Homo sapiens: one gene and its partners. The protein of the gene in region 2 interacts with the protein of the main gene of each other region in a pairwise test. Each region holds a gene or a part of one and is shown on either strand. Other genes may lie near its edges.

The links.
Region 1: the proteins of ANKRD46 (region 2) and CLEC4D interact in binary tests that used the Homo sapiens proteins (3 or more experiments, as listed by UniProt).
Region 3: the proteins of ANKRD46 (region 2) and EFNB1 interact in binary tests that used the Homo sapiens proteins (3 or more experiments, as listed by UniProt).
Region 4: the proteins of ANKRD46 (region 2) and FAM209A interact in binary tests that used the Homo sapiens proteins (3 or more experiments, as listed by UniProt).

The regions. Positions count from the first base shown.
Region 1 is NC_000012.12:8,508,524-8,516,511, reverse strand, and holds the start of CLEC4D (C-type lectin domain family 4 member D), read right to left. Parts: upstream 3,010-7,988; 5' UTR 2,780-3,009; coding exon 2,752-2,779; intron 1,277-2,751; coding exon 1,184-1,276; intron 1-1,183.
Region 2 is NC_000008.11:100,521,735-100,528,759, reverse strand, and holds part of ANKRD46 (ankyrin repeat domain-containing protein 46), read left to right. Parts: intron 1-756; coding exon 757-915; intron 916-5,988; coding exon 5,989-6,205; 3' UTR 6,206-7,025.
Region 3 is NC_000023.11:68,824,202-68,832,039, reverse strand, and holds the start of EFNB1 (ephrin-B1 precursor), read right to left. Parts: upstream 3,020-7,838; 5' UTR 2,264-3,019; coding exon 2,136-2,263; intron 1-2,135. UniProt on the Homo sapiens protein: Cell surface transmembrane ligand for Eph receptors, a family of receptor tyrosine kinases which are crucial for migration, repulsion and adhesion during neuronal, vascular and epithelial development.
Region 4 is NC_000020.11:56,520,721-56,526,662, reverse strand, and holds FAM209A (protein FAM209A precursor), read right to left. Parts: upstream 1,920-5,942; 5' UTR 1,855-1,919; coding exon 1,606-1,854; intron 881-1,605; exon of another isoform or gene 860-880; coding exon 593-859; 3' UTR 511-592; downstream 1-510. UniProt on the Homo sapiens protein: May play a role in sperm acrosome biogenesis.

The DNA of each region.
Region 1 (7,988 bases), on a different chromosome or scaffold from region 2:
TAATGAGGCTGGCACTTTTGTGTGTTTATTAGACATTTCATTTTTCTCTTTGTTTTAGTACCTATTTAAGACTTTGCCCAGTTTTTTTATTGTAAGTATTTTTCCTACTGGTTTGAAAAAATTTGTATATAATCTACATGTGAATTATTTATTAATTATATGCATTACAAGTATCTTCTCCTATGGCTTTTTATTTTCACTGTTACTGGTATGTTTTGTTGTACAGTAACTCATTTTAATGTAGTATAATTTGTCAATGTTTATTTTCTAGTGCATTTTGTGGCTTGTTTAAGAAATCGTTCTCTACCTCCAGGTCATGAGGATATTCTCCATTTATCTTCTTAAAACTTTATTGATTTACTTTTCACATTTTGGACAATAATCTGCTCTAGATTTGTTTTTGTATACAGTGTGATGCAGGAGACCAATTTCATCTTTTAAATATAAATAATCAATGGGCTCTGCAACATTAATTGAACAAAATTGTCCTTTTCCCATATGTCTGAGATATCTTCTTTTGTTTTATATAAAGAGTCTTATATACATGCAGGATCTGTAACCAAGCTCTCCTTTATTTTCCTCTAGTCTATTTGTCTTGCACCTATATCATATTACTTTAATTATAATTATTTTATGTTTGATATCAGAAAGAATTTTTTTAATGGTGGTGATGGTTTCAAGGGTGTATACTAATCCCCCAAATTGAGATGTATACATTAAATATGTACAGGTTTTCATATGTCAATCGTACATCAATAAAGAGGTTGAAAGAAAGGAAAAAAGAAAGAAAGAGAGGGAAAGAGAGAGAGAGAACAATTCTTCCAACCTTGTTCTTTTCAAAGCCAGTCTATCTGAAAGTTATTTTTCTTCTGCTTACTCTTTTCTCATAAGATGTATCCCTTTGTGATCCCAGTCCAAAATGGGGGGAAATTTGCTATAGTAACCAACTTTTACATGTACAGAAAATGGTCTAAATTCCATCAATCAATCTCTATCACAAGGTACCACCATTGAAAGACAGAAGGTCAAGAATGTAGCTCTGAATATTCAGTGCAAGACCCTGAAGATATTATAGATAGGTTATGCTAGGAAAAATCAAGATACCAAAAGGCTTAGAGCAACTTCAGAAAAGTTGTTTGGAAATAATAATTCAAGAAGAGTTCTACTTTGGCTAATAACTTACCCAAACAACTTGCAATAAAACAGACACTGAGAAGTAAGATGAAAACTACAGCAATAACCGAAGGTATCAGCTGGGGATGCATGCCTCCTTCCACTAGGACCAAAAGAAAAATAGAGATTAACCTCCTCTCAGCTACAAGCTAGGAAAGCTAATTCTACCAAGGAGCAATCTAAAAGTGACAGCAAACCAAATATTTCAGATCTAGAGAAGAGCATAAATATTTTCTCCAAATAAATCAATTTTAGAGCTTATTGATGAATAAATAAATAAGAAAGAAAAATGTAAAATTTCTTGGTAATTTTGAAATGAAAAGAATTTTATAAGTAAGATACAAAACCCAAGAGCCATTAGAATAGATAATTTGAGTACATAAAAATTAAAACTTCTATATAACACAAGCAATGTTAGAGTCAAGGAACGTATGAAAGGAAAGTCTTCTCATAATATTAATATCCGCACTGGATAAAGTATTTCAAAATCAACTAGAAAACTGAGCAAAACTCTGAGCAGGAAATTTGCTGAAATTTTAATTTGCTGAAGTTATAAATAGCCACTAATCAAACAAAAATATGCCCAATCAGGGAACTGTAAACGAAAAGATTGTGGTATAACTTTTCACACATCAGATTTTTTAAGTAAATTAAGTACATGCAGTGTTGGCAAGGCTGAGGGGAAATAAGCACTCTTAGTGAGAAAATAAATGCTGCTGCCTGGACTGGAAAATTAGGAATGCCTTTTAGAAGGATCAATTTAGTGGCATTTATCCATTTTTAAATGCATTTCATTTGCCACAATAATTTCAATTACAGGTGTCTATTCTATAGAAATAATTGAGCTTGTTTATGTTAAAAGATATTCATTGCAGTACTTCTCAAAATAGAAAACACATACTGTAATCTAATATTTACATGTATATTATCAATAGTGGAAATTCTAAATTATGGTCCCTTCACACAATGATATTCTGTATAGTAATTAAATAAGCATGTAATCAGTATATATTGATGCAAAAAATCTCTAAGAAATATTGTTACCTAAAAAGGTAATTCAATAGGATCACACTGTGATTACAGTTTGCCATGGTAGGGTGATGAGATAAAGTAAAACTTTAATTTTAATTTAAACATTTCCACACTTGTTCTATATATCTATCAAAAATATTATTTAATATTATCACAATACAAATCCACTGGTGTCACTTAAGTCAAACATAAAATGGGACAGTTAGAGCCTCTGATACAGCATAAGCCTAAATGCTTTTTCTACATCTTCCTTTTCTCTTTTTTCTTTAAAAGAATCTTCTCATATTACTCTCTTTCTTTTCATCTTATTTCTCTTTTATATATTTTATCTCCCCTCTTGGTCCAATATACATTTTATAAAGAAGTTTCTGTTATCCAACTTATTTGACTCTATGTCCTTCCTCTTCACCAACGTCATTTTTATTTCCTTCCACCTCCTTCTCCCCGTCATCATCAACAATCTTTAAAACTACCATCAATTCATATGTTTTAAATTAGTATAATTCCATCTGCTTCTTTGAAATGGAAAGGAGAGAAAGTACTCACGTTTACTTTGAGGTTTTTCTAGCCCCATTGTCTAATTAGTCTCTTGTTCAATGGTCAGGACGGCAAGAATTTGTTCTATTTTTTTTCCCCCAGAGTATATTTCTGTGGATAGGGGAATATATTCAGAAATACTTGAGATCGAACACCAATGTTACATATTGTAGTGAGATTAGAAAGGTACCAGTATAAGAAAGTTAGCTCAAAAGAAGTCTTTTTCAAAGACAGGGGTTTCCTTTGATACATTCCGGGAGATGAGGCGAAAAAAAAAAAAAAAGGAAATTGAGAAAGCAATACCAAACAACAGTTAGTAGAAACCCACAAGTATGTTGAGATCACTAGATCAGTGTGAAATGTGGAATTTCTCAATTTGTTTTTTTTTTCATTTAGACAAAAAATTTAGCAACGCCCTAAAAGAAATAATTGTTATGCCCAATAAAAATTTAGTAAATGTCCCCTCTTTTTAAATTCTTTTTGTGAATATTATATTTTCAAAGGCAGTTATATTCTTGGGGTGAGTTCTATACTAAAAAGTTCTCTGGACTGAATAAAAAGTTGAGTCTAAGAGAGCAAAAGACAATGTGAACAATGAACAAAAACTTTTAAAGTATACCTTGTGTGTACATGGCATGTGAAGACACAGCAACCTTTGTTTTCGAGTTGAGGAAGAGATGATAGAGCAGTTAATTAAATCCCAAGAACTTTCTAGGTGAGCAAAAAGAGTTGTGTTAAGGCAAAGACAAAGAAAATGTAAGATTCTGTGATAAAGACACCATCAGGGTCCCTGACTTCATTTATAGCACTGTTAGGGAGTGAATGTCTGTATCTCCTCAAAATTCATTGGTGGAAGCACTACCCTCCAACGTAATGGCATTTGGAGGTCAAAAGTTTGGGAGGTAATTAGGTTTAATATGAGGTCATGAGAATGGGGTCCTCATGATGGAATTATAAGAAGAGACCCGGCTAACGAGCTGTTTACTTCCTGCGGGTGCTCAGGCTGTGGCCATCTTCCTTGCTGTTGCTCTTCTCATTGGAGAAGATGGCCCTGGAGACGGTGCTGAAGGACCTGTGGCATCTGTGGGCCTGTTTGCTGTGTTCACTGGTCAAGGTACTATAGACCAGTTTGAATATGATGGTTGTGACTATTGAGATGCATATCTACAGATGAAGGGTAACTGAGAGATGCTATATGGCTGCACCAGCTCCTCCTTTGATGGAATCATTGCGATGATGAGTCCAGAGGACAGCTGGGTCTCCAACTGGCAGCGAGTCAATAACTTTAAGCCAGGTGTATATGCGGTGTCAACCACTGGTCGCTTGCCCTAAGGAATCGTGCGGGAGCTGAAAAGTTGAGGAGTGGCCTACAAATCCAAAGACACAGCTATAAAGACCAGACGCAGGGCTGCCAGCGTCTTTGCTCTCCACCTCCTGCCTCTGCTTATTTTTTGTTCTGGAACTAAATGGGCAGAGCTTCAAATGCTTCCTACCCTCCAATTCAGACTCAGCCAACTGTTGAGAGAACAGCACATCATTTTATCATTTTACCTTATTTGGACTTCAGGTGGGGGTGGGAGGGATTTGGGTTGGTGGATTAACAGATGGAATTGAGGAGAGAGTAGGATGCTGACTTTCCTACCTGTAGCCCAAGGCTGCGCCTTGCTCATGAAGAGGTCTAGGTCAAATGTCAATAAATAGAAACCTCTAGAAAGTTCTTAAGGCCATGACACCTGCCTCGCTTCCCTCTTCCTTTCTCTTAGGCACACAGTAAGAGCTTATTTGCCCTATAAGATACCTTCCCAGAGCAGCAGAGGCCCTTCCACTCCCTCTTGACTGTCTCAGCCTCCAGGATTGCAGCCTTTGTAGTGTGCTTCCTTGCTTCCTATCAGAAGGTGCTGTCCAGAGGCTCAGTAACCCCATCAGCTTGGTGGCCCTGGTGTCTTGTGCTTGTATCCTTCTGCCCTTGAGACCTGGCACAGCAGTATCCCTTGAAGAAATCCTGAGGCTTTGTCGTGCTCCTTGCTCCTTGACCATGTTTAATAATTCTTTTCCCCCTCTGCTCGTCAGTTTTCTTCTCTTTACTGCTCTTCCTATATCTTAGGCCAGTCTCACACACTCACATTTTACATTTTCCTTACTGGAGACCCTTGGGCCTTGGCCGACTGCTGGGTCCTAGTCTGCCTTGTTTGTGCCCCTGTAGGAGGCAGGTCCTTTTCTCCGCCGGCCCAGTAGGGGACCTTGGGTAACATCCCATTTTTCGGCCAAAGTGAGTTATTTGTTTTAGGATAAAAAATTTACTACAAATTCTCATTTACTTAAATTTCCACAGAAATCCTGTTAGTGTCCCCATTTTGATTTCCCTAAGTTCCTTGTTCTCCCTCTGTAAAAAAAGAATGATTACACCTTGCCTGTTTACCTCAGGAATGTTGTGATTGTAGAAACGAAGCTATGTGAAAATTATGCAGCCATAAAAAATGATGAGTTCATGTCCTTTGTAGGGACATGGATGAAGCTGGAAACCATCATTCTCAGCAAACTATCACAAGGACAGAAAACCAAACACCACATGTTCTCACTCATAGGTGGGAATTGAACAGTGAGAACACTTGGACACAGGAAGGGGAACATCACACACCGGGGCCTGTTGTGGGGTGGGGGGAGGGAGGAGAGATAGCACTGGGAGAATGAGGAGTTAATGGGTGCAGCACACCAACATGTCACATGTATACATATGTAACAAACCTGCACGTTGTGCACATGTACCCTAGAACTTAAAGTATAATAAAAAAATTTAAAAAAAAATTTAAAAAAAGAGAGAGAGAGGAAAAAAAAAGAGAGATGAGTTCTCCAGAAGGCAGTCATCTGCAAGGCTAGTAGAAAGCCCTCACTGGTAAAGTGGTTAATTTGACAGGACTCCAAGAACAAATTTACATGACCTGAAGGAGGACACTTTGGGATTCATCACAGAAGCCACATAACCTACAGAGAGCAAAGAAGAGCGACACAGAGCAGCTGCCCATCCAGGATTGCCATGGAGCCAAGGGAGGCTCCCCACAATGGGGAAATGATGAGTGACAGTCCCTAGGGACCCACACTTCTGCCATGCTGGCACTCTGATCTGAGACTTCCAGCTATTAGAACGGTGAGAAATAAATGTCTCTCTTTCATACCACCGGTCTATGGTATTCTGTTATAGTGGCCCAAGCTCACTAAGACAAGTACATAACAGCTTAGAGATCCTTTAAGAAAGATCTCTACAATTTCCAGAATATAGCCCTTTCCCTGAACTCTTCCCTAAGCTACAATATTACTTTAATGATATGTGTGTATATATATTCTGTGATCTTCAGTGAAATATTACTTTACTATGTTAAATTGGGGATGGGAGGAGGTAAAATTATAGATTTGGCAATCCATATATTTTCCGGCACCGCCAGTCACTACAAGAAGTATTCCAATAGCAACAATAGCACTAACCCACAAACTCGGATATGCAACCCTGGAAACTAGATTTTTGGTTAAAGTAATATTTATTTCTATCAAAAGGACCTGGGACTCCTAGAGAATACATAAATCCTGCTTAGAACAGGAAAAAAATAGAATAGGTCTGGTACATTCTGTTGTTCTCAGAAAGTGACTATAATTTCAAAAATATGAGGGAAACCCTACTCTAGAAACTTCTCAGAGCTGAATGAAAAGCTGTGTCCAAGACAGTTAAGATTACAAAAAGACAATATGAACAATAAGCAAAACCTCCATTAACCTTTATTTTTGAGTTGAAGAAGACGTGACAGAGCTGTTAATTAAATCCTAACATCTTCCTAGATAATAGAAATCAGGCTTGTTAAGGCAAAAAAAAGAAAAAAAAAAAGGAGAGAGAGATTCTGTAGTAAAGACACAATCTTTATCACAGGTAAAAGGTAAAGTGGTTAATTTGACAGGACTGCAAGAACAAATTCACATAATTTGAAGGAGGACACTTTGGGATTCATCACAGAAGTAACATAACCCACAGAGAGCAAAGAAGAGTGAGACAGGACAGCTGCCCACCCGGGATTGGCATGGAGCCAAGGGAGGCTCCCCACAACGAGGAAATGATGAGTGAGTGACAGTCCCTAGGGACCCACACTTCTGCCATGAACCCGTACAATCCTGGGCACAGGGGATGCCCCTGACAACCCCCCGAGTCCTGTCCTCCACCAGGCCTGCACTTACATGGAGAGCTGCATGGAGTCGAATTCATGGTGCTGAGGAGCAGACAGACTGCAGGCCTCCGCTAAACCTTGCCAGGCAAAGCCCACTGGCCTGGGCCCCCAGCACAGCCACTCCACCCCCGCCTGAGGACTTGGGCTGGTAGCAGCTCTGCATTTCTATGGGATGGAGCTCGCAGAGGTAACACAACAGGAACACCGTTTTTTTTTTTGCCACTTCCATAGCCCCCGCCCCTACTGCCTTCAGGCTGGGAAGAGGGTGAAGAGCCTAAGGACTATCACAGACCTCCAGCATAGAACAACTGCCTTACAGAAAAGTGGCCACACTGTTTTCCATGCAAGTTCATGTGCCTGCTACTCCTCACTAGGCAGGCCTCCCCACCTGAGCCCCCAGCACAGCTGCCCTGCCTTGACCTAGGCACTTCAGGTGGTGGCAGCTCTGCATTTCTCTGGGGAGGAAATCCCAGAGACAAACCACAGGTTCTCTACATTGCCATGACAGCATACTAGTCTTGCTGCTCTCGGGCTGGGGAAGGAACAAAGAGACTGATTGCTTTCCTGGCACCTCCAGCATGCTACAGCCACCACATGAGGAGGAGCCGAGTCTTTCTTCCCTGTGAATCCCTTGCCCCCTACTCTCTACCAGGCAGGGCCCCCATCTTGGGCCCGCTGCATGGTATCCCCACCCCCAGCTGAGCATTCCCATTAGCTGTGGCTCTGTATCTGTCTGGGGCGGAGTTCCCAGAGACCACTGACAGCCACTTTGCCGCTGTCACTGCAGTGGTACTGCCCTTGCTGCCCTTGGGCTAGGGAACGAACACGGAACACAGACTCTGATTGCTTTGCTGGCACCTCGAGCATACACAGCCACCATACAGAGGGGAGCCAGCCTCTCCTTCCTGTGAGCCCCTGACCCCCTGCTCTTCACTAGGCAGGGCCCTGGGCTTGGGCTCATAGCGTAGCCACCCCATCTCCAGCTGAACATTCCCACTGGCAGCAGCCCTGTGTCTCTCTGGGGTGGAGTTCCCAAAA
Region 2 (7,025 bases):
ATGGGGTAGGAATTGACTGCAGGATTTAATGTGATTGGGGTTCTAACCTATTATTAGCGCTAAATAGCTGCGTGAACCGAAGCAGCTTATTTGACATTTTTTTCTTAGACTTTTTTAAAAAAAGTACTTGTCTCATAAAATGTAAATATCAAATAAGAATGAATCTAGAACTAGATTTATCCACTTTTTTGACTATATGTTCTCTTTTTTCTTTTCCCTGGAAGTAAAAAAAAAAAAAAAAAGAAAAACAAGGGTTAATTCAAAATTCAGCTACACTGGATGTTTGGCTCAGCTCTGGGTTTTACTTTTGAGTTAAACTGGACCCATCCTTTTTTTCCCCTTGGTGATTTGTTCTTCATAAACACTTTCTATAGTACAATTCAGAAAAAAATAGAGGCACACGGCTATTACTTCTACCATAATCTGCTGTTGAGGAGACATTCAGTGTGAGGATGGGGTCTGGAGGTGGGGGACGTGTTTGGTTAACAGGATAACGGCCTCTGTGATGAACTGTGCAAAAATCCCATCAGTCAACATCTGATTGCAGCCAGATGGTCAAGGCTCATGGTGGAAGAGTTGTAGTGAGCCAAATACTCCTTTAGTTCCCCACAGCCCTAGGGTAGGCCCTAATTGGGCCCATTCTTTCTTCACTGAGATCTATATAAGTGGGTACTAAAAATGGAACTGACAATGTAGTATAACTGCTATGATGGCTTCTTTATTTTTATAAACTTTTTTTTTTTTTTTTTTTTTTAGCAATCATCAAGGTGCTACCCCTTTAGTTCTGGCAAAGCGCAGAGGAGTAAATAAAGATGTCATCCGATTGCTGGAATCTTTGGAAGAACAGGAGGTGAAAGGATTTAACAGAGGAACCCACTCGAAACTGGAGACCATGCAAACAGCTGAGAGTGAAAGGTACTGGAGATACAACTTTTTTTTTCTCACTGTATTACTCATTCCTTGAACTCCTGGGCTCAAGCATTCTTCCTGCCTCAGCCTCCTGACTAGCTGGGACTATAGGCACATGTAGCCACACCCAGCAAGATAATACGATTTTTTAAGGGGAAAGTCACTTTAAGTATGTGGATTTATGGTTAACTTTGTGAACTTTAATATTCATTTGCTTTTAAGTGCAACTTGAACTTTATATAGGACCTTATGACTGCAGATTACAATTGAGAAGCTATTAACAGAAAGTACTACATGTCATGTGCGCATAATGTTCTGTTAGCCACCTGCTGTATTGACAGTACAAAGGAGAAATAGTAACAAATGAATCTGAGGGGAGGAAGCCGGAGCTTGATGATTTTAAGTACAGGTCACAAAAAGAATGGAATTTCAAAAAAAAGAGAAGTATAAGTAAAGCCAAGAACTTGGGCAATTTTAGAAAAGACTGAAAGGTAGTTTCAAGGGTAGGGAAGTGGAATGCTGAGAAACAAGAAAACAAGAGAGGGAAAGCAAGATAGTATTTAACACATGCACAGTTCAGTAATGTGAAAGTGAAAGTGACTTTCATATGAGTTGGAGCTAATGAAATTTGGATTCCTGTGAGTAATCGAAGCTAAGATGTGGTAACTGACAGGGTCTTGAATAGCTCATCATTTCTCATCTAGAAGCAATGGAGAATGCAGTTCAGAGAGCTCCAAAAAGGTGGCGCACCATCTTTTCTCCTGATGTCACTGGGCTCAACAGGTAAAGTTAATAGGCCAGACTTAGTTCTAGTAGCATATTATCTGGTTGACCACCATGCAGTTTCAGCCTTCCACATTATACGTGTGAAGGAAAAAGGATGCTGAGCTTCCATAGCCTCTTCCCAGTATTCTCGGTAGGTTGTAAATAGAATAAGCAAGGGCCCACATCAGCTGTTTACCTAGTAGCTGATGGACTAGGACTTGGATTTAGAATCACATAATCCACTTAGACCATTGGGATCATTGTTTCTGTGAGTTCTAAATGAAATCCTCTCTGTTTTTCATAGCTTACCCTTCATTTGATTCCTTTGTACCCATTTTTGCTTTCCTCCTCTCGTGTGCCAGATGATGTGCTCTTTGGGGACCATTAATTCCACTCTCAAGCTTAGGTCTATTTTGTTCAGATACTTTCAAGCACTTTAATACAGTCCTAAAGAAATCCAAGAGCTTTACTTCTGGAACAGTGCATACTCCTCTTGAGTGATCACTGAAAGCTGACAAATAGATAATCAAGAAGTCAGAGATGTATTTGCAAGCCCTTGTTTTTCTCTCCTCTGTACTTTGGATTGACAGAATGGCATAAGCACTTTAACAATATTGAGTTAACTATTATTTGTTAAAGATTTTTTCCTCTAAGATAACTTGAAATTTATTTTTATCTTTTTATGAAATAACATTAAGTACTTTAAGCTTCTTTACCATGAAAAACAACCAAGAATGTGTTCTTGTTTGGTATATTTTTAGGATCTTTATTTTGTTAATAGCCAGTTTCTTGGCACCCTTTTATTAGAAATATACTTTTAGCATTAGTTTGCCTCAGTTGTGATTACTTACTAAGAAGTGATAAGTACAAAATAATATTCCATTGGATGAGCAGTGGAAGTACTCCTGCTTCCTTCACATACCTGCCATTTCACTGCAGCATGAGAGTTTGTATTAATTGTAACACTGTATAAAGCTCGTTTTTCAAAAATTGAGTTATTAACACTTTTATTACCTAGTTTTCCTATCTTACTCCTACCCCTCAGTGTCATGGTAGAAATTCAGTGGTTGAAGCTTAAATCAGAAAGTTGAAAGGTAATGTCATTAGGAAAATGCAAATGAGGACCATAGTGAAATGCCACTTCACACCCACTAGGATAGCTGCAATTAAAAAGATAGATAATAACAAGTGCTCTGGAGGATGTGGAGAAATTGGAACCCTCATACACTGCTGATGGGAATGGAAAGTAGAGCAGCTTCTTTGGAAAAGTCTGGCAGTCCTTCAAAAAGCTACACGTAGAGTTACCATCTGACCAGCAGTGCCACTTCTAGGAATATACCAAAGAAAATTGAAACATATGTCCACACAAAACTTATATATGAATGTTCATAGCAGCATTATTCATAATAGCCAAAACATTGATACCACCCAGATATCCATCAGCTGATGAAGGAATAAACATCATCTGTTCATCCAATGGAATATTACTAATATTATTATATTATACTGATACATGCTACAGCATGGATAAATTTTGAAAACATGCTACATTGGAGAAGCCAGGCACAAAAGGCCACATATTACATGATTCTGTTTATGTGAAATGTCCAGAATAAGCAAATCCATAGAGACAGAAAGTAGATGAGAAAGTAGACTAGAAGCTGGGAGAAGGGGCAATGGGAGTGACTGCTAATAGGTACAGAGTTTCTTATAGAGGTGCTGAAAGTGTACTGGAATTAGAAGAGATGGTTGTACAATTTGGGGAATATATGAAAAGCCACTGAATTGTACAGTTTCAAAAGGTAAATATTATGGGATGTGAATTATGTCTCAATAAATGTAGATGAAAAAGTTTAAAGAGATTGGCTAGCACATGGCATTATGGCATAATTGTGTAATGGCTTTTTCTAGAGCAGAAGATAAAGCAGGGTTTTAAATGTATTTACTATAATATTTTCCATTTCTCTTAGGATTCCCCCAAGACAGCACAACTTCTGCAGGCCTTATAAGGGACTATAAATCAAGTTAATGAAAAATATTTCCCCACTCCTCCATATAACTCTAAGTTTAATTCCTTTTTACTTTGTAGGTATGGGATAACAAAAACAGTATAGCTATCACATTTTTTAAAAAAGATACATGCAAACACACCCCCCAAAGACAGTGTAGATATCACGTTTTTAAAAAAAGATTATACACACACCCCATTATGTTAGAATCAGATATTCCCTGGACAGTAGAAAGCATTTCATTGGATAAAGTCTTTATAGAATATCCCGATTGGCAGAGCTTCATGAGCTCTGAAGAACAATGAGAATGCTCATGGAATTTTCATTTTATACCTAACATGTATAAGGGCATGTCAACTCGTAATCAATAAATTTTACATAGGTCAAACTAAGCCTCTGCAGAACTGTGTTATCTATTTGTGGTTTTACTCTTTTAGGCCTTCTCAAAGTTCTAATCTTATTTTTAAACTTGCTGTCAAGTGTTCCAAAATTACTGTGGTGTTGTAGATTCCCACTGAAAACATCATCTCTTATTCAGAGAATAAACATGTTTTAATTATTAAAAAAAAAAAAGTTTGGGTGTTAAGCAGACTGGCCCATTAGGAAGTCAGTTTCCCATGATCAGAGAAGACCTCTAATGTTGGTAAAGGCTGAAGGACTTTTGTTTGATGGTATCAAGAAGTAAAATAAAGTTGTAGGTTAAAAAATGTCAGTTTTGCATGTTTATTCATAGTTCATAATGAATGAGACTCTAAGATACTGTTTTATGGGAGTTAGGAAGGATAGTAATGAACTTTGATAACCAGTAGATAGTTGATTCCTATGATCATGGTTATGGTGGCTTTAATCTAAATGATACCCTCTTATTGGGCCTGTATGTTGTGATATAACCATGAGTGCTCTTCCCTTAGTGCTTCCAAGTACCAAAGTCAGATGCAGTTTCTCTTTGTGGTAGTCGTATTTCTCATTGATAAAGTTCTGAAAACCAGAATCAGTGTTTTTATGGTATTTGCACTACCTTATTTTCAACTAGACTAGCCTTTATGCAGAAGAGAAATGAACATATTCTGTCTTACTGTACAAGATAGAACTAACACCAATAGGAAGAAACTATTAAGAATTCCTAATGACTAGGCCAGCTGTGGTGGCTCATGCCTGTAATCCCAGCACTTTGGGAGGTCAAGGCAGGTGGATCACCTAAACTCAGGAGTTCAAGACCAGCCTGGGCAACATGGCGAAACCCTGTCTCTACCAAAAATACAAAAATTAGCCAGCCATGGTGGCATGCACCTGTAGTCCCAGCTACCTGGGGGGCTGAGGCAGGAGGATTGCTTGAGCTGGGGAGGTGGAGGTTTCAGTGAGCTGAGATCGCATCACTGTATTCCAGCCTGGGCGGCAGAGTGAGATTCTGTCTCCAAAAAAAAAAAAGAATTTCTGATGACTAGACGAGTCCACATGTACAACAGGCTGAGGAGTAACCTTCCATTATTAGAGAATTACAATTAAAGAAGGAATTCCTTCATTGGTCAGATTATTGAACTAAATTAATAAAAATTCCCTTTTAACTTCAAGATTCACACACACTGTATAAGTGACTTTTTAGATTTACTCATCTTCCCCCCTCCCCCCAACAGACATTTACTTTCTCAGTTCTAGGGCCTAGAAGTCTGAGATCAAGGTGTCACAAAGTTGGTTTCTTCTAAGGCCTCTCTGCTTGACTTGTAGATGACTGTCCTCTTCAGGTGTCATCACCTGCATGTCTGCTTATTCGTATTAACACATTCTTAAATTATGAGTCTGCACTTTGAATCTTCTAAATTTAACATAACAAGAATGTGTTGTGGTTTAATATCTTGATGGAGACAACTCATAACCTATTTCAAGACTTCTGCTCAGGACACCTTAAAAAAAAATAGAGATGGTGTCTCGCTATGTTACCCAGGCTGGTCCCGAACTCCTGGGCTCAAGTGATCCTCCCTCCTTGGCCTGCAAAAGTGTCGGGATTACAGGCATGAGCTACCACGCCCAGCCAGGACCTTTTAAATAGAATTTTTAACTTGAGTTTACTAAATTCTAAACCAAGAGAAACATACTCATTACCATTTAGCAATTTACAGTTTAGTATATATTGTTCAGATACGTAAGCATGTAAGAGTGTGTATATATATATATGTGTGTGTGTGTGTGTGTGTGTGTGTGTGTGTGTGTGTGTATTTGGTCTTTTCTAAATAGTAGCCCTGTGGTTTTATGTTTTTGGAATTGCTGTGTTTTTTTAATGCCCTTTTTGCTCTTTCTTCTTCCACAGTGCCATGGAAAGCCATTCACTCCTCAATCCCAACCTGCAGCAAGGTGAAGGAGTCCTCTCCAGCTTCCGAACCACGTGGCAGGAGTTTGTGGAGGATCTGGGCTTCTGGAGAGTATTGCTGTTGATCTTCGTCATTGCTTTGCTGTCTCTTGGCATTGCTTATTATGTGAGTGGGGTGCTACCCTTCGTGGAAAACCAGCCTGAACTGGTGCATTAAAGGAGCTCATGGAAGATGAGGCAATTAATTGCCTGTTTCCTGGCTTCCAATGTTTGTTCTCAGTTTCTCAGAATTTTTCTTAGCGCAAAGCAGTGAGGGCAGTACATGTTCTTTTTGCATTTTTAATTATTGTAATCCTTTTAGATAATGATGTGTTCATTTGAACTAACTACATACTATGATCAAGTATATTGCATCCTAACGCTACCTCTGACTCAACCTGACTTTGTAGGAAAGCCTACACGTAGCCTTGTTTGATAAAAACACGGAAGTGACTAGAGAATGGAAGATAAAGGAAGAAGCTAGGAAGTCCTTGCTATCAAAACCTTATCCTAATATAGGACCAATTGAAGTATTCAAAAAGAAAAACAGTATCTTATATGATTAGTTTTTGTTGGTGGTTTTGTTTTCATTTATTTTTGCAAGAGCCACTTTTTATTTACTTTCTCTAGGGATAAGAGATAAAACTTGAAGTACTTTTTTCAAATCTTGTGTGCAAATTAGTATTGTTAGCATCTATTTGGCTTATTTTAGTATTTTTAAGTCTAGTCACAAACCAAACAAAACTTTTGAAAATGAGCTATATTTTGTTCAAAGATAATTGATTTGATCTTATATTTATTTGTTTTTAGGATAATTTTTGATCTTTTTGTAAACTGCTTTGCTTGTTAATATCTGTGAAAAATAAATGAGTTCATTTTGTTCACTTTCCAATTTTCCCGAGTATCCTAGTCATCAAAGATAACAGTTCATCAGAATTACAGTCAGAAAATCCTTTTTCTACTGAATAGTTAGCAGGGAAAAATAATTCTGATATTTA
Region 3 (7,838 bases), on a different chromosome or scaffold from region 2:
GAGCCAACACATGTAGACAGTGGCTGCATTCCAGACCCCTGAGCCTGGATGGAAGGAGGGTGCACCAGGATCAGTCTCTGATCCTTCCCAGGATCTACCCAATTACAGAATGGAATTCGGACAGTTTCTAGAGAGTCTTCAGCCACCCCCCATCCTCACCCCACAATGCCTGCCCTCAGCTTGAGGTAGATGAGGAGGGGGGTCAGAGAGGATACCACCCCCCAAAACCTGTAAGCCAGTCCAGAGCACTAAAGTCTCTGAGCACAAAAAGGGGGAAGCACAGACAGATCGTGTTTCTTCCAGCACCCCCAACTCTGCAGGAGGGCTCCTTTCCAGCTGTGGAGCTGCATGCTATCTCTGGTTAGAGACCCGAGAGAGCAATTAGGTCACTCCCATGAGCCCCTATGATGGGCTACCCCAGGCGGATTTCAACTCTCCTGGCTCAAGACAGAACATTTCCAGCCTCCACCCTTACCAGGGTAACTGAGCACTTCACAACCACTGAGCACTTCACAACCACTGAGCACTTCACAACGTTCCCCCCTGGGCTCAAGCAGCCCAGAGCTCCCAGAGCATTTTGAGCCCCTGCTGTTAGGAGAGTGTTGTACCCCGTTTGGCTTCTGGGTAGGAAAGAAATTCTTGCCAATCCCTTTCCTTGTACCCAGGGAGAGCCCTCCACCCCAACCCTGGTTTAGCCATCCCACCAACCAGTAATAGGACTCTACCTTAATCGAGGAGAAGAAAACTAAAGCTGCCTTCTCCTACTCCAGGGCTGAGAGATCAAACGTCCCTGGGACCCAAGAGGCCAAGGTAGGCAGGAGCCTGGGAAGTTACCCGGGGCAGGGCGGGGCTGGGGGGGAGGCGGCGTGGGGCAGCAAGAGTGGACAGGAAGAAATTTGAGATACAGGAATCAGTGATCACGGATGGAGCAGGTCAAAGCTCCCCAGTTTCCTGCTAAGTGGGGTTGTTCGCACATTGCTGGGACCTCCAGAAAATTGAGAGGAAGGGCAATTTTGACCCTTGGTTCCAACCTGAGTCCTGGATGCCAAAAGAGAAGGTCCAGAGGTCACTACAACAGCCCCAGCGACTTCCCACTAAAAGCCCAGAAACCACTGAGCCACCGCCCTGAAAGGTGTGCGTGTTGTTTGGAGGGGTTGTGTGTGTGGTGGTGGTGGGGTAGTTGTGCAGAGGAAGGAGAAGAAAGAAAAGAAAGGATGTCCTTTATATAGCTGCCCACTCCCCGCCCCAACCCCTTGGGGAAAACTAAGCACAGCTTCCCAATCTGGGGGACAGACTCGGGGGCCAAGGGGACCTGCCTGGGCAGGAATCGCTCCTTCTCCACCCACCTCCCTCAACAGCTCGGCCGCCACTCTCCGCCCTGGCGGGCCCTTGAAGCTCTGTTACCGGCTCCATTGGACCCCTGACGGGCACTGGTTCGAACCCCCACTACCCAACGACCACTCTCCCACTCCGCCCCTCTCCACCCGCTGCCTTTGTGAGCCTGGGAGCAGCGCCCGCCTTTCTACCGCTCCGGCAGGGAGAAAGGAGGGGCGGGGGGCAAAAAGAGACAGCAAAGCAAAAAGCCAGGGAGGAAAACAGGGAAGAAAGAGAAATGAAAATGGGAGAAGCCCGAGTGGGGATGTTGGCGCTGCCACCCACCCCAAGCGCCGGGTCCCGCTCTGTGTTCCCTCCACAGCTACGCAAACGAGGAACCCGTGTTCTGGCCTCGTCCCTCGCCCGAGTCAAGCTCGCTCCTGGAGCGGCTCTCGGCGAAAATCACCACGTTCCCAGGGGCCCCGGAGGGAGCTGCGTTCTCGCCTCCACTCAGTTCTCCGGTGCGCTCTCGGGCGCCCGGACTCCCCAGCTCCGCCTGTGCGACCACCTCGACTTCATCCAAGACGTGCAGAGGCAGGGGGTGGGAAGCCCGGGGGGTCACAACCCAGCCAAGTGCCCCTACCCCACCCCGCCGCACCCTGCTCCATCCGCCCGCCCGCAGGAAAACACTCGAAAAAGCCGGAGACAAAATGAGGCGCCGCTCCTCCTCCGAAGACCTCCCCACATGCACTCCGGGGCGTGCGGCCTCACCCTGAAGGAGTGCCTCCCACCCCAGCGTCCAGAGGAGATAAGTTACTCACTTGGGGTTGAGGGAGCTCCAGGATACGGGCTCCAGGTTCTTGGCCAGCGGTGTGGCGAGCCGGCACAGCGCCCACACGACCATCGCCACAAGCCACTTGCCGAGCCAACGCTGCCCAGGCCGAGCCATCTTCCCGGGGGCAGACTGCACTTCGGGATCCCTTGGCGCCTCCTCACCAAAGCTCGCCTCGCCTTCCTCTGCCGCGCTGCGCTCGGAGCCGCTCAGGCGCCCATCCTCCGCAGCCGCCGGCCTTGAAGTGCTCCCCTCCCGCCGGCTTCGGTGTCGCTCTTCTCCGCCCGGCCGGCCAGGAGGACTCACTGGGCAGCCGCCCCCAACCCGGGCATGGGCTTCGGCCCCCGAGGGCTCGTTCTCCTGGGCTCTCCGCTGCCGCACGAGGCGCGACGGGGGCTCTGCGCCCCCGGGTGATCCCGCCCGATTCCGCTCGACTTCCCGAGACGCTTCGGGGCTGCGCGCCCTCTCCCCGACGGGGTCTTCCCGCAGAGGTCTCGGTGACCGCCCCGACGCCTCGACCGTCCCGGGATCGCTGTCCCTTGGAAGAAGTGGGGGTTTCCCCACAGCACAAGCTCGGTCCCCGGGCTCCCGACTGGGCCGCCCTGGCACGGGCTCCGTTCCTCCGGGCCACACTGGGACTCCGGGCTACGCGCCCCCGGACAGCTTCTACTTCAGCGCGGGCCCTGCTCAGTGTACTTAGAAGAGCGGGGAGATGCTGCCGAGCGAGCCAGTCCCATTAGTTTGCGCCCCCGAAGCCTCGGCCGGGTAGCCCGGCAGCCTCGCGTCGCCGAGTCCTGGCTCCCGGGCGATCGAGCCCGAGGGTCTGCGGCCAGTGCGAGCCTCACAAACCTCCCACTGCTGTCCAGCTCGCATAGACTCCCTCCGCTGCCGCTGTGCTGTCTACTCCCTTGCTCAGGCGAACGCAAGGCCAACCCTGCTCTCTTAGCCAATAGCAAGCTCAGTGGCGGGGTCCTTGCCCCATACCACGCCCCCAGAGCAGGAAGGGGGCGGGGTTTCAGGGAGCTCTTAAGGACGCCGCGCGCCCGATGGCACCAATCTGAGTGTGCGGCTCGTGCGGTTAGGGTTGGGTCCCTCTCAGTCCTGTTCCCAGAGAGCTCAACCCGTGGGAAGTTGGCACTCTCAAGAGCTGCCGGCCTGCTCTCCTCTCCACGCGTCTGGTCAACACCCCAGCCCACTGACCCTGTCCCAAGTACCCCAGGAAAGTATTTCCATTTTCTTTTTACACACAGGACCCCTGAAGTCCTGCTCTGTGCCCACCTCCGTGTCAAGGACAGCCTGTCTGCTCCTCGTCCAGTCCCACGTAAGGCTTTAGTGGGCTTTCCTCCTCTCGCCCTCAAAATGCACTGTCTGCTTGCACTTGGACCCGGAGTCAGGAACATAAAAGTGAGAACAGTGGGAGGGGGAAACTGGTGAGGGTCCAGTACTTGATTGGGGTTAGAGGTGGGGCGGGGAGCAGGGTGGGGTGTGGTGGGGAGAGAAGGCGTGTTCATCGCCCCTGGGGACCAGGCCTTCGGAATCTCAGCTTTCTGGGGGAGCCTTGTGGGACCTCTGGAGCCAAGATTTAGTCTTGTCCTGTCCGAAGGCGCGGGCAAGGTCCCGGGATAGGCAAGCGGGGATGAGAGGGCACGTCGATAAAGAAAGACACCTCGAGGGCAAAGAGGAAAAAGCACAGGGCATGAGACTTTTGAAAAAGCAAAAGCGGGCATCCTGGACCGGAGAAGCCGGACTCCAGCCTGTCCCGGCCTCGCCATCTGGGTCTTTGTCTCCCAGCCCTGGCCCATTCTTCCCGCCCCGCCTTGCCTCTTTGCTTATAACTTGGCTCGATCCCATAGCTCAGACCTTCCAGGTCCGACCCACTCTCGCTGGTCGGACCCCAGAGGACGTACCCACGTGCTAATGTCTCCCCCTGCTGGACTTCCATAGCACTGCGGGCGCCTGGGATAAACCCGGAGCTTGCCATAGCACAAGACCTGGGACAGGCGTAGCCTTGGCAAAAACCGTCACCCTGTATGGGGAGGAAGGGAAAGAACTAGAAGGATATCTGAGTTTGGGGTAGGCTTAGGGACTGCCAAGAATACAAGGTCTCCCCACTTTTTCTTTATGGAGATAATTAGATGAGCAACATTCCCAAAGTGCTCCACCATTCACACAGTTTCATGTCCATCATCTCGCTTAATAGGTGACTGAGCTACTGCGTTTCTCAGTGGATCCTCTGATGATCTTTGTGGCTGTAGAGGTGGGAATAGCCCAGATTTTGTCTTTTTATTTTCTCCCAAATAGAGGAGAAAATAGGGAAAATCTGGGCCCTTCCCACTTCCAGGGGCAGCCCTTGAGGGTGAAGTGGCTCTGGGTAGGTAGGGAAAGAAGGAGCTGTTTGGGGTCTCTGAGCTCTCAGCTGGACCCTGCATTGGGGTGTAAGGAAGGAGAGATGAGATGAATAGGGTGTAGGGACACACCAGTAGTCTAGCTGGGAGACTGGGATCCCTGGAGTGCATGCTAGGACATCAAAACCTGAATACAGAAAGCAGCCTGCTGCTTACTGAGTGCCTACTATTGTCAAGAACCAAGTTAGATGCTTTTCCTTTCATAACCTTTTGAAATGAGTTTCAGTATCCCCATTTTACCTACAGGGGAAAGTAAGGCTCAGAGAGAAGTGACTCATCTGAGATCACCAAGCTGATCAGTGGTGAAAGCAGGATTTGACTCCTGGGACATCTGTCTCCAAAGCCTGTGGCCATTCCCCTGTACCATACTGGCTCAAATTCCCAGCCAATCCTTGCTTCTTTGCTTCTTTGGTTCATTCCTGGTTAAGGCTGGGTCGTGCATGGACAGCAGCAGCCTGGGGCTGGCCAGGACTCTTCCCTCACTGTCCTTCAAGAGGTTGCCAGGCCTGGAAAGTTCATCTATATTCCTGGCCATAGCCCAGAGTTCTTCTCATCTAAGACCACCACTGCCAACCCTAGAGCCAGCCTTGATTCTTCCTCCCCACAGCCAGCATGCCCGGTGCCCCACAGGAGGAGAGCCCAAGGCCAGGTGGGGGATGGGGAGATGAGGCTATGCGGCCAGTCTTGGGAAACATGGGAAGACAAGCAGTTCCTGAGTGTGCCAGCACCTAATCCCGGTGGGCAGGGTGGCAGAGGAAATGAGAAGAAGACTCTTTATGTCCAGACCTGCTCCACATGCTACTTATCCCTGCTCACAGCACAGCCTTTCTGCCTCAACCTGCCCACACCAGCTACAGGGGCCTCAGGAGCAGAGCTGAGCCTACTCCCTGCCATGGCTAGGCCAGTGATTCCAGGTTCCCACCTCCTGACCCACCCTGGCGGGGCCTCAGATGTAATGATTCAGGCCCCCGAGGTAGGGAAAAATTACTCCCAAGGGAGCCTGAGAGGAAGTCAGGATCTGTGAGCAATGGGGGCCCTCTCATCCAAGCCCTCCCTATACCATTGGCAGTCACTCCCCACCCATTTCTCCCAGGTTACTGTGTCATTACAAACACATCCACGCACGTGCTCACACACACACACACACACACAACTATCAGGTTTCAAGTCCACCAGCATTTCCTGAGCAGTGCCTCTGTGCTGACCTCTGAGCGGGGCCATCCCTGTTGACACAAAGAGCAGCTCCAACAAGCCCTGCCCACAAGGAACACCAAACACTGATACCTGTATGTGGGGGATCCTGGACCCAGAGATGCAGGAGAACATCTGGCAGCTGCAGGAAGCCTCGGGCATCGTGCAGCCCTGGGAGAGCAGAGCTGCTCCTTCTGAGCTCAGCTTCCCACACCCATGAGCAGCAGGGAGGTATAAACTTCAGAGCCACAGAGTTCCCTGCTTATGAACTGTGTCTCCTTGGGCAAGTCAGTTCACCTCTGTGTGCCTCAGTTACTTGTCTGTAACCTAGAGGTCGTCCCTCATTCACAGAGCCGTGGTGACGGGTGAATGAGACAATGCATGTGAAGGGCTTAGTATCATGCCTGGCCCACTGTGGTACTTACTAAATGGAAACTCTTACTCTTCTGCAGAGCCTCCCACAGAGACACTCTCATCCCCAGTCACACACGTTCTCACCTGTTCACACATGCTTTGTGTGGCACATGCACATTTTTTATCTCCTCTCATATTCTCACACACTTGTACATATATGCACACAAACTCTCATTCTTTCTCACCTATCCATTTATTCAGCAGAAGGTGGCAGGACCGGGTACTGTCCTCGTGGAATTTAAAATCTAGCCCCCAGAGTTTCTCATGTTCACTATCATCTACACATGTGTATGAACATGCACACACCTTTCTATTTCTGTGGCCCTTGTCCTTGACTTCTCCCTGCCTGCCTTGCACTCTGAGACACAGAGAGGTGAAATAACTCACCTAAGGCCACCCAGCCAGGAAGTGGAAAAGTCAGGATGTAAACTAGGCCACACTGATATACCAAGGCTGTGGAAAGGAGTGTGTGCCAAGGTGTGGGCCTGGGAAAGCCAGCAGGCCCAGCCAGAGCTAACAGTTAGAAAAGCAGACTGAAGAGTCAGGGAGCAAGGATCCTAACTTGAGGTCCAAGGCATTGCCAACTGGGACAACCCAGTGGGGCTAGCAACCCTCTCTCTTGTCTGCAGTCATCTCTAGCCTGCCCCATGCCTCCTATTTTCCTCCTAGAAGACCTACTACCTGTACCTGCACATCTCACATACACTGGCACCTATTCCCTACAAGGAGAGGGAGAGCTACCATTTATTAAACACCTACTGTATGCCAGGCAGTGTGGCTGGGTGCTTTCACCTGGTGCTCTATTATGTTTGTTTAATCTTCACAACATCCCTGAGGTTGATATTGATAGACCTGTTTTAGAGATGAGAAAACTAAGGCTCCAGGCTCAATCTGGCTGCATCCTCTGCTCCACCAACCTCAGTCTGCAAAGTGCTCTTTTGCTCAGCCAGCTTATTCCCACCACCCCCTTCTCTGCTGTCCTTCCCTCTGCCCACACTTGCCTCCTAGCTGAGACCAGCTGGGGTCTATGCTGATCTTGGGTTGCCCTTTCTCTTCAATGAATACTTTGCTTTTTTCCAATTCACCCTATCTGTAGGTCAGTCTCTGGGCAAGCCTGGGGTGGGACCTGAGACTTCCCACTCTTCCTCCTTTCCCCACGTGGCTGCATCATACCCCAGGGCTAGGTGAGATCTAGCCTCAGGCGGGTAAGATCTGGAAGTCTGTTTTCACTGCACCCACGAGAGTTCCCGGTGGCTGGGGAAGAAGGGGGTCGTCCCAAAGGCCAAAGGTTCAGCCAGACTCTCTCCCCAGCCCTTCCCTGTCCCTGCCCCAGCTGCATGCCTGGTTTATGGGTATTTGCACTGAGATCATCTTGATTTGCCAGATGCTAGCCTGTGTCAGGTTGATGGCAGAATGGCACTAGGGATGGGAGGAGCCCCTCTCTCCCTCAGATGGGTCTGGTCCCCCTCCCTCCTTCTCTCTTTATCTCCTCCTCATACCCCTTACCCCTACCCTGGACTCCTAGACATCTGTCCCAAAGCCTCAAGCTCCATGCAGGCAAATGACCTGCCCCCCTGTCCCTGTAAGAGCCTGAAATAGGGCATCTGAGAGCCAGAGCATGGCTTGGTGTGCATAACAGGTGGACAAGCCTCTGAAGGGCAGCTGGGACCCTGGGCCCTCAG
Region 4 (5,942 bases), on a different chromosome or scaffold from region 2:
CCTTTTTTTTTTTTTAAATCCAATTATTGACAAATGTAACTGCTAGTGTGGTAGAAGGAAAAGTCAATATACACGGAACCTTTGACAGGGAATGAGTGAAAGGACTCTTGTGGTGAGAGAATCAGATAACTCTAGAATACACCCCTCCTAATTGAATCATTTTACCATTTTAAAACTATCATTAATGCTGTCTTTTGTAATAAATCAAAGATAAAAAGCAGTTCTGCATCTTGCACAAATAGATGCTATAGAGAGCAAGAGTTTGTATGGAAGTGACGTCAGCATCTTATCCCAGATTTCCCTAGCTCCATCGTCCACCCGCGGCCATTGAACAGAAGCACGAGCTCATCACGTACTATTATGTAGCTTTCGGTGTTCTTCTCACCACCCACAGCTCTAGATGACGTGAGAGAGGCAAAAACAAAACCATCACTGCTATGGCTACTGGTCTCCCATTCACTTTTTCTTCTAGTGAAAAAAAGAAAAGAAGCAAGCTCTCAAACATGGAAGTTCTTTTCTTCAGAATAGTTTTATTAGTTTGCATACAGTTTGTCAACACTCAACTTTTTTCTCTCCTGACACACAAATCCATTCAGCTAGAGCTTTCTTCTCCCCATATTTCACAGATCGTGACATGGTATGGATCTGCAGGCATCTCTGACTTTCGAAGCCTGAGGTTACTGCCACTACCTGTTGCCATGGCACGTTTAAGATTCCGCACTTTGGACACAAATTTCATAAGCTCCACCTCGAGTTCCATTAAGGTATTGAATGCACAGTCTTTGTTGGGGGAAGCATTTCTTTTTTTCTTTAATGGAGAGTGAAGTTGGCCGCCTCGAAGGCCAGGAGGACTCTGCTCCTGTCAGGAAAGATACTCAAGGTCAGTAATATTGTGAACTTTGTTGGTTTTGACACAGTTCGTGTTACAACAGCAGACTTGAGTAGTTGCAAGAAGACCATACTGCCCACAAAGCTGAAGATATTCGCACCCTCCCTGGCCCTTTACGGGAAGGGTTTGCCGATCCCTGCTCTCATCAGTTTGGGCACAGGATTATGAAGTGCTGGGTCTTTCTAGGGGAGAACGCACTTTCTCTCCCCTTCCTTTTCTACCTGAAAGAGTTGTTTGTGGTCACTTTGAGGACCAGCTCAAACTACCTTACATCTTTATCTCTTCAGCACAAGTCTCATATTTTGTTGGGATAATGATATCATTTCCATTTAGCTCAGGATTTTGTAGTAAGTCAAACACTAGCAAGAATTTAAAAAACAGGGGCTAGTGAATCTGGCCCTGTGAATAATTTTGACTTTCTGAAACACACCATAAGTTCTTGAATCTATCCTACATTTGAAAAAATCCATCTAACCAGAAAATCTGTGAGCCAGTAAGCAGAGGTCACTTTCCACTCTTTGTCCCAGTATCTGTGGATCTGGGGACAATTGTCTTCACTAAGGATACATCAGGAAGTGAATTTGCCAGCTTTGCCCAGGACCATGAGGTCGGTTCATTATACCCAACGGTGCCGTCTAGACTCACTAGAACATCCGTTTCCCTGAGACTCCTGAGATTGAATCAATATGGTGTAAAAAAAATGGAGCCATCCTTACCTTATTCTTCTCACTGTCTCTTTGACACTGCAGTATCACAAACGGCACAACAACAAAAAGAAGCCAGAGCCATTTGCTCCCAAGCCAGCCTTGGGTGTGCTCTGGTAGATTCTGCCGAATCCGAAAGTGCTCTCCGTATTGCACCTTCCCCTGGGGTTCGCTAGTTTTCTGTCTCAGAGAAGAGAACATAAAGGCATAGCTGCAGGTGAGGCACAGAAGCAGGACCAGGGACGATTTCAGCGTCCACATGGTGAGCAGAGATGGGGAAGGGAGTTGCTCATGACGGGTTTGCTTGCCCTCGCAACTGGGAGACTGGGCACCTGGTGCCAGGCCCTTGGTGATGTCACAGAGGCCCTGAGCTGAGGCCACTCTGGCCATTGTGATGATTTCAGGACAGAGGTTACAGGTCACAGGGGTTGCCCGGGAGGAGGACTCAAAGGGAGATGGGGGCATTTCCAGCAGGCAGTCAGAGAGAGAGGATGGGCACGACGGGGTGCCAATTCCCTGCCAGGGGACTCTTTCCAACCCTGGAGCTTTGCTGGGAGAGGCCATCATGTTTTTGTTTTTCATTTGTTTGATCCAGACATTGTGATGAGCAGAGGGAGATGCCATGTGCCCCGTGGAGCTGAGTTAAACGGGAGAGAAAGATATTAAACCACAGGCTACCTACAAATTTGGAGCCACCTATGTGGCTCAAACTAAACAAACAAAAAATTTGTTTTTGTTTTTTTTTGGGGACGGAATTTTGCTCTTGTTGCCCAGACTGGAGTGCAATGATCTTAGCTCACCGCAACCTCCGCCTCCCAGTTCAAGCCATTCTCCTGCCTCAGCCTCCTGAGTAGCTGCGATTACAGGCATCCACCATCACGCTTGGCTAATTTTGTATTTTTAGTAGAGACAGGGTATCTCCATGTTGGTCAGGCTGGTCTCTAACTTCCGACCTTAGGTGATCCACCTGCCTCGGCCTCCTAAAGTGTTGGGATTACGGGCATGAGCCACTGCGCCCGGCCCACCTATGTGTTTTGTTTGGCCTACATTGTTTTTAAAAATTGTCAGTACTTAAATATTGGGGGGCATTTCACTTTAAAACTCCACATTCTGGCTTCCTTTGAAAATATGGGAGGTCCAGAAACAATGAGTGCACACCCTCATGGAACCAGTCTCTCTGCTGCAGCCAAGTGAAACCGTCCTTTCGGTGGCCATATTCCCTCCACAGTCCCCACCACTCACTATTACCTCACACCATCATTGATCGTAGCAGTGTGTGCCCACCCTGGGTTAAGAGTATACTTTGGGCTGGGTGTGGTGGCTCACACCTGTAGTCCCAGCACTTTGGGAGGCCAAGGCAGGTGGGTCACCTGAGGTCAGGAGCTGGAGAATAGCCTGGCCAACATGGTGAAACCCCATGTCTACTAAACAAAAATTAGCCCGGCATGGTGGCATAGGCCTGTAGGCCCAGCTAGTTGGGAAGCTGAGGCAGGAGAATCACTTGGACCTGGGAGGCAGAGGTTGCAGTGAGCTGAGATCGCACCACTGCACTCTAGCCTGGGCAACAGAGTGAGACTCCATCTCAGGAAGAAAAAAAAAAAGAGAGAGAGTATACTTTGATTAAAATTGTGATAAGAACAGGAAGCTTTAGAGACTAGCATAAGGGGACTGCTCTAAACTAGGTTATGCAGGAAGCAGGAAGAGTGTCCAGAAAAAGATGGTTGAGTAGAGCAGGGGAGATGATTAAGAGTTGGTGGGTAAAATGGGAAGGGGCTGAATCCCCCAAGTAAAAAGGAACAGCTAGCTTGACAACTGAGGCCAAGGCTGGGAATAAACCTAGGACTCCATAGTATACTCGAAACCATGTGTTCTTTAAAATGACATGAAACAAGAAATCCTGGGTGCTGGAACGCACGGCTTGTACTTGTTCCCCTGGGTCATCTGTAGAGCTATCTTCCTGAGGAAGGCTCTGATTTGCAGATTTACTCCCGAGGAGCAGAACTTTATGCTGCACAGGAAATAATCAAAGTTCAGCTGGGCACCTTCGCTGTGCCTTAAACTACTGATCTCTGTGGAGTGACAAAGTAGTTCTGCAAGACTATGGCCAGGGGCAGTGGCTCATGCCTGTAATCCCAGCACTTTGGGAGGCCAAGGCATGCAGATCACCTGAGGTCAAAGAGTTTGAGGCCAGCCTGACCAACATGGTGAAACCTTGTCTCCACTGAAAATAAAAACAAATTAGCCAGGTGTTTTGGTGCACACCTGTAATCTCAGCTACTCTGGAGCTGAGGCAGGAGAATCGCTTGAATCCAGGAGGCGGTGGTTGCAGTGAGCTGAGGTGGTGCCACTGCACTCCAGCCTGGGCAACAGAGTGAGACTCTCTCAAAAAAAAAAAAACCAAAAAATAGTTCTGCAAGACTACTCTAGAAAACCGAAAGGGGAAAACGCTGTTGGGCTGTGCTGCACAGCTTCTTCCTCCATGAGCATGGTGCAGTGTCGGCTGGGGAGTGGGGCTTCCTGCCAGAGACTGGGCACGATGGAGAGATGCAAATCTCCAGGTTGACCAGAAGACGGGCACTTCTCTTCTTGCAGGGGCCCACTCAGCTTGGCAGCTACTGCCTGGAATTACACCCACTGTAGAGGCAGCTGCCCTGATTTCCAGGGCCTTGGGCCACCCTGTGACCTCAGTTTGGAGGCCTGTCCTTGGCATCATGCGGCTCCCTGTCCCCAGTGTTCCCCATTCCAGCAGCTTTGAGGGATGGCTAATTATTTTCAGAGGCCCCCATGTCCATACACAGCCTGTGTCTTTTCTTTGAGATAGGGTCTTGCTGTGTCATCCAGACTGGAGTGCAGTGGAATGATCTTGGCTCACTGCAGCCTCGATAATTTTTGTTTTTTTTTTTGTTTTGTTTTTGGTAGAGACAGGGTCTGGATAATTTTTATTTCATTTTTGGTAGAGACAGGGTCTCCCTGTGTTGCCCAGGCTAGTCTCAAAACTCCTGGGCTCAAGCAGTCCTCCTGCCTCAGCCTCCCAAAGTGCTGGGACTGCAGACAGGAGCCACAGTGCTCAGTCAGCCCGTGTCTTAAGTCGGCTGGGAAGTTTGGTGGCTGTGGTGCGATGGAGCAGTAAGGGGCAAACAGACGTGGTTTACAGGAATGGCCCCAAACAACAGAAATGCTCACAAGTTTTGCCACATGTGATTTTGTTATTTGGAAATGTTCAGTCTTTAATAATGGGAATCACTTTTTCCTATATGTATTCAAAAGTCTACAGCACTCTCCAATAGAGCAGGACCAGTGGGTAAGCAGACCAGATCTTTGAGCCAAACTTGTCTGGGCTGTGGGGTGGGGCGGCACTTCTTTCATTCATTTTGGCACAGCTTTCATTTCATTTGTTGGAAATGAAGTGCTGTGGTGTTGCAGGAAGTCAGGGACCCCAAATGGAGGGACTGGATGAAGCCACGGCAGAAGAACATAAATTGTGAAGATTTCATGGACATTTATTCCTTCCCCAATCAATACTCTTATAATTTCCTATGCCCGTCTTTACTTGAATCTCTTAATTCCGTCGTCTTCGTAAGCTGAGGATGTATGTCGCCTCAGGACCCTGTGATGATTGCGTTATCTGTACAAATTGTTTGTAAAACGTGTTTGAACAATATGAAATCTGGGCATCCTAGAAGAACAGGATAACAGCAATTTTCAGGGAACAAGGGAGATAACCTTAAGGTCTGACTGCCTGCGGGGCCGGGCAGAACAGAGTCATATTTCTCTTCTTGCAAAAGCGAATAGGAGAAATATCGCTGAATTCTTTTTCTCAGCAAGGAACAGCCCTGGGAAAAGAATGCATTCTCAGGGGGAGGTCTCTAAAATGGCCGCTCTGGGAGTGTCTGTCTTATGCAGTTGTAGATAAGGGATGAAATACGCCCTGGTCTCCTGCAGCTCTCCCAGGCTTGCTAGGATTGGGAAATTCCAGCCTGGTGAAATTCTAGTCAGATCGGTTGTCTGTTCTTGAACCCTGTTTCCTGTTAAGATGTTTATCAATGACAATGCGTGCACAGTGGGACATGAAACCTCATCAGCAATTCTAATTTTGCCCTGGACTTTGATCTCGCTCTGCCCCCATTTGCCTTGTGATATTTTATTGCCTTTGAAGCATGTGATCTCTGTGACCCACAACCTATTCGTACACTCCCTCCCCTTTGAAAATTGCTAATAAAAGCTTGCTGGTTTTGCGGCTCGGGAGCAACACAGAACCTGCTGACGTGATGTCACCCCCAGAGACCCAGCTGTAAAATTTCTCTCTTTTGTACTCTTTCTCAGACCGGCCGATGCTTAGGGAAAAGAGA